2 linked regions of the Homo sapiens genome follow. The protein of the gene in region 1 purifies or fractionates together with the protein of each later gene. This does not show direct contact. Each region holds a gene or a part of one and is shown on either strand. Other genes may lie near its edges.

The links. The genes of interacting proteins can lie anywhere in the genome.
Region 2: the proteins of SSTR3 (region 1) and PALS1 purify together in Homo sapiens (pull-down; one study listed by IntAct). This does not show direct contact.

The regions. Positions count from the first base shown.
Region 1 is NC_000022.11:37,202,767-37,207,496, forward strand, and holds the end of SSTR3 (somatostatin receptor type 3), read right to left. Parts: coding exon 3,781-4,730; 3' UTR 1,471-3,780; downstream 1-1,470.
Region 2 is NC_000014.9:67,327,506-67,331,934, forward strand, and holds part of PALS1 (protein PALS1), read left to right. Parts: intron 1-4,429. UniProt on the Homo sapiens protein: Plays a role in tight junction biogenesis and in the establishment of cell polarity in epithelial cells.

The DNA.
Region 1 (4,730 bases):
TACAGGCTTGAGCCCGACCGCTCGCTGTGTTTTCTTCTGTGTGGAGTCCTGTGGAGTCCAGCTGTCAACTCCCATGGGTCAGTGGCCTCACCTGCCCCATCGCTTCTAGGTAAAGAGGATCCCAAAGATCTGGGGGCCGTGGTCTTTCCTGCCCCAGGCCCTGCGGGTTCCCAGCTCCCCTCTGATAATGCTGATGCTGATGCAGGAAGTCCTGGTCCAGAGCCTGGTGGCCAAGGGCTGTTGCCTGGCAACCGCCTCGGAGAGACAAGTTCAAGGTAAAGCCTCTGGTCTGAGCAACTTCAATGGCTGGAGGAGGAGGAGAGGAGTGGGCAAGGTGCGTTATCATCACTCCTCCCTCCCTGCTCCTGCTCACAACTGCAGAGCCTCCCCTCACCCTACAGCCCCAATGGCTCCCCTAACCCACAGATTCTAGCCCCAACCCCATACAAGCTCCTTCAGTACCCCTGCCCCTTATCACTCATTTATTCAGAGGCACCATGCTGTAGCTTCACAGGAGGTTACAGGAACAGCGTGTACAGTACCCCCTGCAGTTGTGACATGCAGTGGCCCCCTTTGTTCATTCATTCCAGATACTCCTAAGAAAGGCCACGGCAGCACTGCCAGGCCCGGGGAACGCAAGGCTGCCAGACACACGTGTGTGGGGGGACAAGCACATGCACACACAGGCTGCACGTGAGCATGCACAGGCGGGGACACCCAGTGTGGTGGGGAAGCAAGGGCTGCCGGGGCTAGGTGAGGGACCCTACCCAGGCAGCCACTCCCACCCAACGCTGGGGCCCCAGCAGTTCCTCCACTCCCACCACTTGCACACCGGCCGCATGTCACACCTCAGTGCCCATTCACTCACGGACGCAGCTAAGATGTCCCGACCACCTACTGTGCACCCTGCACTGGGCTCACACAAACCTGGACACACAATATCACACCCAGCAAAGGCAGCCACACACAGCAAACCCCACACACACCCAGACCCGCATGTTGTTGGTTGCTGGTGCCTGGCCCACCTCCCCTAGCCATTAGTAGGCTGTCCCTGACCCACCCCTGCCCCACAGGCCAGGCCAGAGTGTCCATCACAGTGCCCTACCTTCTCTCTGGCTGGAAATGTAGGCACATGACCCGCACCTGGCCAACCATGGCACCCTATCACCACGTCTTTGGTGATTGGCCCAAGGGACCATCATGTGACCTAGTTGGAGCCAATCCACTTTCTTCCCTGAAATCTGCTATTTGGATAATAGGGAGAAAGGACATCTACTGCTTTTGGATCAAGGTCTATAAGGATGTGGGCTCAGCCCCATCAAGGGTATCTTCCATGTTCCCTGAAGGACCTGGACTCTGGGAGGTCACACCCGAACAGGCCAGGGTGCACGGAGCCCACACACACCTACACATTCACACCCATCAGGACACAGTGTCTGGCGGAGAAATTGGCCCAGGCCACAGCTGTTATCAGGTGTCACCGTCTTTATTGACAAGAGCTAGAGACAGAAGCAGCAAAGGGTTTCCTAACTGGCCTCCCAGGGACCATTCTAGGACATTACTCTCCTGTCCTAGGCAGCAAGAAGGCAGGATCAGCCAGAGAAGGCCAGAAGGCCAGGGCATCCTTCCTCCCTTGGACCCTCAGATCTTCCTCAAGAAACCCCAGACCAAGTCCCAGGGCCGGGCCTCCAGCCTCCATCTCCACACAAAATGTGGTTTTGTAAACTTCCTTCTCTTCTGATGGTCCCACACTCTCCCCAAGCCCTGCCTCCCTAACCCTTGGCCTCTGACCCCCCAACTGCCCATTTCTCATGGCCTACAGTGTCCTCACCCCAAAGGACAGACACAGAGAGGCCACTTGATGGAGAGGGGGGTATAGGCCAAGCCTGGGGGTGAGGAGGGCACCCCCACTTTATAATCTGATACACCCCACCGTACCCATTGCAGTGAGCCTGGAAGTTACCTCACATGACTCATTTTCTCGTTAGATCCCAGGAGGCAGCCAAGCTGGGATTCATCTCCATTTGTTGATGGGGAAATTGAGGCCCGGAAGGCCAATGCCAGCCCAGGACCCTGAGGTGTGCTGAAGATCCAAGTCTCCAAAAGTCTGGTTCCTGTGCTTTCCCTGAGGACCCCTGCCCTCTGCAAGGGGTGGGGAAGCGGAAGGATTTCACCGGGGGTCTCACCCTCCCAGGGCCAGCCTCACCACAGCTCTGAGGGACCATCTCTGGGAGGGAGTCTAGGCCCAGCCTTGGATGGTGGCTGCTCCCCATGGTCCCCCTCCACAGTCCCACTTCAGCCTCTTCTTGTCTTCCCTGGGCCTCCCGACCTGTAGTCTCCAGGATGATAGAGCATGGGGAGGGAGCTCCCCAGTCCTCCCAATGTCCCTGGTAGCCAGCTCCACCCTAGGGCTTTATTAAGGCCTGAGCCCTCTTGGCAGCACTCTGAGGCCCCTCAGGGACGCAGGCCCTGTGCCTGTCTGTACTCTGTGCATTTGCCATTGCACCCTGGCTGTTCCACCCTGATCGTGTCCTTCCCTCAGTACTGGTTGGGTGGGGCTGTTGTCGGCAACTCAGGTTCACAGATGCTACCACTGAGCTCAGCCCAGGGGGGCCAAAGACGGCTCCAGGAAACAGATCTGTACTTCTCCTTCCCCCTCCTCATCCTCCCCTTTCCCCCTTGTCTTCCTCTTCCTTCTCCTTCCTCTTCCTCTTCTCCCTTCCTCTTCCTTCTCCTCACAGCGCTCTTCAGACACTCTGCCTTTCCATGCCAGTCCTCATGGGCTGGGTCCCTGTCTCGGTCTCCAGGAAGGGAGAATATGGGTCACAAGGAGAGGAACAGGGATGGCCCTTCCTACAAGGAGGTGCCTGGAAGCCCTCAAAAGACCTGGGAACCCCCGGGGGCCCCTACTCCAGCCATAAGACCCAACATGAGCTTCCTTGGGGATTGGGTGGCTGACCTCAGCAGGGGCAGAGCCAGGCTTTGGGTGGCCTAAGCTTATGCAGTTCGAGGTCCCTCTTTAAGAAAACGAATACAAAATGACAAGTACAAAAGTAGATGCAGGGCCTTGCAAAAGCCCAGGCAGTGAGAGACCCTGAAGCTGGACTTCATTCGCTTCCATGAGCAGGAAATTCACCTGCTCTTCCCGTCCAGGAGCACAGGACCTCCAGCATTGACTGCCTGGGCCAAAAGGGTGTAGAGGTTGTTGGGTTTTACCCAGGTGAAGCCTGAGGCCTAGAGAGGAGCAGAGCTGGTCCAAGGCCTCACAGTCGAGGGGAGGGAGCTGATCTGGGGCCTGACCATTTCTGCCCCACTCCTCCCACCGGGTTAGGCTTTCTTCTGTTTAGGTTTCCAGCCCAGCCCCCAGCAGCTCCTGTGTTCCTGACTCTGAGCCCAAGAAATCCTGGCCTTGGTTTATCCCTCTGAGGGCCAAGATTCTAGTTGATGCCCCAAGACACTCCATCCCTGGGGGGAGGCCAGTCTGCACCCACCTTTTGCCTGCTCAGCCAGGTCAGCCCAGCAACAGTGCCCTCCAAACCTCTCATCTGACATAGCTCATCCAGGCTGATGACTCCTATCCCTGAGTCACAGAGGAGAAAACAAGGCCCAGAGAGTAGAAGCAACCTACCCAAGGTCACACAGCAAGACCTGGCAGCAATAGCATCAAAGTCCAGGCCCCTCAACATCCCATCATGGGCCTGTGGCACCTTGGGAAGTAGGCCCTAGGCACACCCACGGCTTCTGCCTCTTCCTCGGGCCATCCTGGCTTTCCCCAGGCCCCTACAGGTAGCTGATGCGCATCGTGCTGGACTTCTCCCCAGTGGAAGCCTCTTGGGGTAGGAGCTGCTGCTCCTTGCTGGCCACTCTGCTGGGCGGCCGCTCCTGCCCGCTGGTGCCAGGCTGCGTGATCTGGCTGACCCGGCCGTTCATCTCCTTCCCCTTGCCCCCCTCCCTGCTCTCCTCCCCATCCTCCTCCTCCTCATCCTCCTCCTCAGTCTTCTCCGGGGGCCCCACAGTGGGCTCCTGGCTGCGCACACGGCGGGAGGGCCGCAGCAGGACCCTGCGGAAGCCCTGCTTGAAGCGGTAGGAGAGGAAGCCATAAAGGATGGGGTTGGCACAGCTGTTGGCATAGGGCAGCGCCACCACCAGGAAGTAGAGCCCAAAGAAGGCAGGCTCCTCGGGCAGTGGGCACACCACGTTGACGATGTTGAGCACGTAGAAGGGCATCCAGCAGAGCACGAAGAGCGCCACCACGGCCACCACCATGCGCGTGACCCTGCGTTCGGAGCGCCGCCGCCGCTGGCACGAGGGTGCCCACACCCGGCGCCCAGCTGAGCGCACCTTCACCACGATGAGCAGGTAGCAGAGGCAGATGACCAGCAGCGGCCCGAAGAAGCCCAGTGCGGCCGTGTAGATGATGAAGCCGGCTCGCCAGGCCGCCGCCGGCTCGGGCCACTGCATGTGGCAGGTGCTCATGCCGCGGGGCACTCCCGAGAAGACCACCACGGGCAGCACCACCACGGCTGAGGCCACCCACACAGCCGCGCTGACCGTGCGGGCCACCGGAGCTGTGCGCCAGCGGGCCGAGCGGGTGGGATGTACCACGGCCAGGTAGCGGTCCACGCTCATGACAGTCAGGCAGAATATGCTGGTGAACTGGTTGATGCCATCCACCGCCATGACCAGGCGGCACATGAGGGAGCCGAAGGGCCAGTAGGACAGGGCGTTCT
Region 2 (4,429 bases), on another chromosome or scaffold:
ATACTTTAAGTTCTAGGGTACATGTGCACAACATGCAGGTTTGTTACGTATGTATACATGTGCCATGTTGGTGTGCTGCACCCGTTAACTCGTCATTTACATTAGGTATATCTCCTAATGCTATCCCTCCCCTCTCCCCCCACCCCACAACAGGCCCCAGTGTGTGATGTTCCCCACCCTGTGTCCTGGTGTTCTCATTGTTCAGTTCCCACTTATGAGTGAGAACATGCAGTGTTTGGTTTTCTGTCCTTGTGATAGTTTTCTCAGAATGATGGTTTCCAGCTTCATCCATGTCCCTACAAAAGACATGAACTCATCCTTTTTTTGGCTGCATAGTATTCCATGGTGTATATGTGCCACATTTTCTTAATCCAGTCTATCATTGATTTGGGTTGGTTCCAAGTCTTTGCTATCGTAAATAGTGCTGCAGTCAATGTACGTGTGCATGTGTCTTTATAGCAGCATGATTTATAATCCTTTGGGTATATACCCAGTAATGGGATGGCTGGGTCAAATGGTATTTCTAGTTCTAGATCCTTGAGGAATCACCACACTGTCTTCCACAATGGTTGAACTAGTTTACGGTCCCACCAACAGTGTAAAAGTGTTCCTATTTCTCCACATCCTCTCCAGCACCTGTTGTTTCCGACTTTTTAATGATCGCCATTCTAACTGGTGTGAGATGGTATCTCATTGTGGTTTTGATTTGCATTTCTCTGATGGCCAGTGATGATGAGCATTTTTTCATGTGTCTGTTGGCTGCATGAATGTCTTCTTTTGAGAAGTGTCTGTTCATATCCTTTGCCCACTTTTTGATGGGATTGTTTGATTTTTTCTTGGAAATTTGTTTAAGTTCTTTGTAGATTCTGGATATTAGCCCTTTGTCAGATGGGTAGATGGTAAAAATTTTCTCCCATTCTGTAGGTTGCCTATTCACTCTGATGGTAGTTTCTTTTGCTGTGCAGAAGCTCTTTAATTAGATCCCATTTGTCAATTTTGAGTTTTGTTGCCATTGCTTTTGGTGTTTTAGTCATGAAGTCCTTGCCCATGCCTATGTCCTGAATGGTATTGCCTAGGTTTTCTTCTAGGGTTTTTCTGGTTTTAGGTCTAACATTTAAGTCTTTAATCCATCTTGAATTAACTTTTGTATAAGGTGTAAGGAAGGGATCCAGTTTCAGCTTTCTACATATGGCTAGCCAGTTTTCCCAGCACCATTTATTAAATAGGGCATCCTTTCCCCATTTCTTCTTTTTGTCAGGTTTGTCAAAGATCAGATGGTTGTAGATGTGTGGTATTATTTCTGAGGGCTCTGTTCTGTTCCATTGGTCTGTATCTCTGTTTTGGTACCAGTAGCATGCTGTTTTGGTTACTGTAGCCTTGTAGTATAGTTTGAAGTTGGATAGGGTGATGCCTTCAGCTTTATTCTTTTGGCTTAGGGTTGTCTTGGCAATGCAGGCTCTTTTTTGGTTCCATATGAACTTTAAAGTAGTTTTTTCCAATTCTGTGAAGAAAGTCATTGGTAGCTTGATGGGGATGGCATTGAATCTATAAATTACCTTGGGCAGTATGGCCATTTTCACAATATTGATTCTTCCCATCCATGAGCATGGAATGTTCTTCCATTTGTTTGGTCCTCTTTTACTTGGTTGAGCAGTGGTTTGTAGTTCTCCTTGAAGAGGTCCTTCACATCCCTTGTAAGTTGGATTCCTAGGTATTTTATTCTCTTTGTAGCAATTGTGAATGGGAGTTCACTCATGATTTGGCTCTCTCTTTGTCTGTTATTGATGTATAGGAATGCTTGTGATTTCTGCACATTGATTTTGTATCCTGAGACTTTGCTGAAGTTGCTTATCAGCTTAAGGAGATTTTGGGCTGAGACGATGGAGTTTTCTACATGTACAATCATGTCATCTGCAAACAGGGATAATTCGACTTCCTCTTTTCCTAATTGAATACCCTTTATTTCTTTCTCCTGCCTGATTGCCCTGGCCAGAACTTCCAACACTGTGTTGAATAGGAGTGGTGAGAGAGGGCATCCCTGTCTTGCGCCAGTTTTCAAAGGGAATGCTTCCAGTTTTTGTCCATTCAGTATGATATTGGCTGTGGGTTTGTCATAAATAGCTCTTATTATTTTGAGATACGGCGGACGCATCACTTGAGGCCAGGAGTTCGAGACCAGCCTGGGCAACATAGTGAAATCCTGTCTCTACTAAAAATACAAAAAACATTAGCCAGGCATGGTGGTGCACGCCTGTGGTACTGGCTACTGAAGAGGCCGAGTTCGTGCTACTGCACTCCAGCCTGGGCAACACAGCAAGACTTGGTCTCAAAAATAAATAAATAAATAAATAAATAAATAAATAAATAAATAAATAGATATAGAAACTAAGAAGATGATGGTGTTACTCACTGGATGCAAAATGTAACCAACCAGTTATGTAATTGTACTCTGAATCTGTTCTTCTAGTATTGTGAAAGAATGGTATTGGCATAAAGATGTGATTTTTTTCTTGTATGTATTGTTAAAGTCACAGAAAATCATCTATATTGTGGTAAGAGAGAATATATGCCAGACAAATGCTCTGCTGTCTGTCAGAAAGAGGAATAAAGACACAATCTGGAACCAGGAAATAAATAATAATAATAATAATTATTATTATTATTATCAAAAGGAATAATCAGACACTTTAGCAAAAGAAATAAGTTGGAGGGCATTTGTCTTTATTGTCTCTTTTCTATTTAATTCATTTCTTTTTATGCTTTCTTTGACTATAATTTGCACTTGCTTTAGTTTCTCAAGATGAATGCTTAATTTTTAAACTCTTCTTTTCAAATGTAGGCATTTGAAATTATAAATTTCCCTCGAAACAGTTCTTTAGTTGCATCCCGTAAGTTTTGGCATTGTATTTTTGTTACCATTTTGTTAGAAGTATTTTCTAATTTCCCTTCATTTTTTTTTTTTTTTTTTTTGAGATGGGGTTTCGCTCTTGTTGCCCAGGCTGGAGTGCAGTGGCACTATCTCTGCTCACTGCAACCTCTGCCTCCCGGGTTCAAGCAATTCTCTTGCCTCAGCCTCCCGAGTAGCTGGGATTATAGGCATGCACCACCACGCCCAGCTAATTTTGTATTTTTAGTAGAGATGGGGTTTCTCCATGTTGGTCAGGCTGGTCCCAAACTCCCGACCTCAGGTGATCCACCTGCCTCAGCCTTCCAAAGTGCTGGGATTATGGGCCTGAGCCCCCGGCACCCCGCTTCCTTGTTTTTCTCTTTAACACATGAGTTATTTAGAAGTATGTTATATAGTTTCCACCTATTTGGAGATGTGAAAAAGATTTTAACTGATTTATAATTCCAGGTGGTCAGACCCTGAAAGATGTCAGTCTTTTCAAATTTGTTGAGCCTTATTTTATGGCCCAACATCTGTTCTTTCTTGGTGAATGTTCTGTGCACACCTGTTAGGATGTGTATTCCACAGTTTTTGGTGTAGAGGATGGTGTATCTGATTGTATTTATTCTACTTAAGTTTTTTTCTCCTGTGATATTTCTTTCTTTTTTTTGAGACAGAGTCTCACTCTGTCGCCCAGGCTGGAGTGCAGTGGCACAATCTTGGTTCACTGCAACCTCTGCTTCCTGGGTTTAAGTGATTCTCATGCCTCAGCCTCCCAAGTAGCTGGGATTACAGATGTGCACCATCACGCCTGGCTATTTTTTGTATTTTTAATAGAGACGGGGTTTTGCCCTGTTGGCCAGGCTGGTCTCAAGCTCCCGGCCCCATGTGATCCACCTACCTTGGCCTCCCAAAGTGCTGAGATTACAGGCGGGGGAGCCCCTGCGCTGGTATTGGTATTTCTAATAGTGCTTTATTACTCAATGATAGAAGTGCTGAAGTAAAACAGATTTTCAATTTTAACTCTATAAAATTGTGCTAAGAAAATGATGGCGTTACAAAATGTAACCAACCGGTTATCTAGTTGCATTCTGAATCTCTGAATCTGTTCTGCTAGTATGAAGGCTTGAGAGTGGCTATCTAGCAGTATGAACTTATTGTCAGTTTTGCCTAGTTCAGCTAAAAATTTTGAGCTAAAACATTTTGTTTCATCTTAGTCGTGGATTGTAATTTGAAAGAGAACTTCAGACATGAAGTACTAAATAAGTGATATAAGCCATTTTGGCACAAAATGGAATAACAATGCCTTAAATTTGATAAAAACTAGGTGGATTCGGGCTTTATCATTTTCATTTCAACTCCAATACCACAAAGTTTCAGTTCTCTGTGGAGTCCTAGAATGTTCTTCCAATAATCTTGAGCTTACGGTAGACATAAGTTTTAGCAAAAATGTCAGTGTGTTCAGTTACAGTGGTGAAGTAGATTCCCTGCTGGGAACAAAGGATTCTGTGTGCCATATTCAGATGTACAACATTCCAGAAT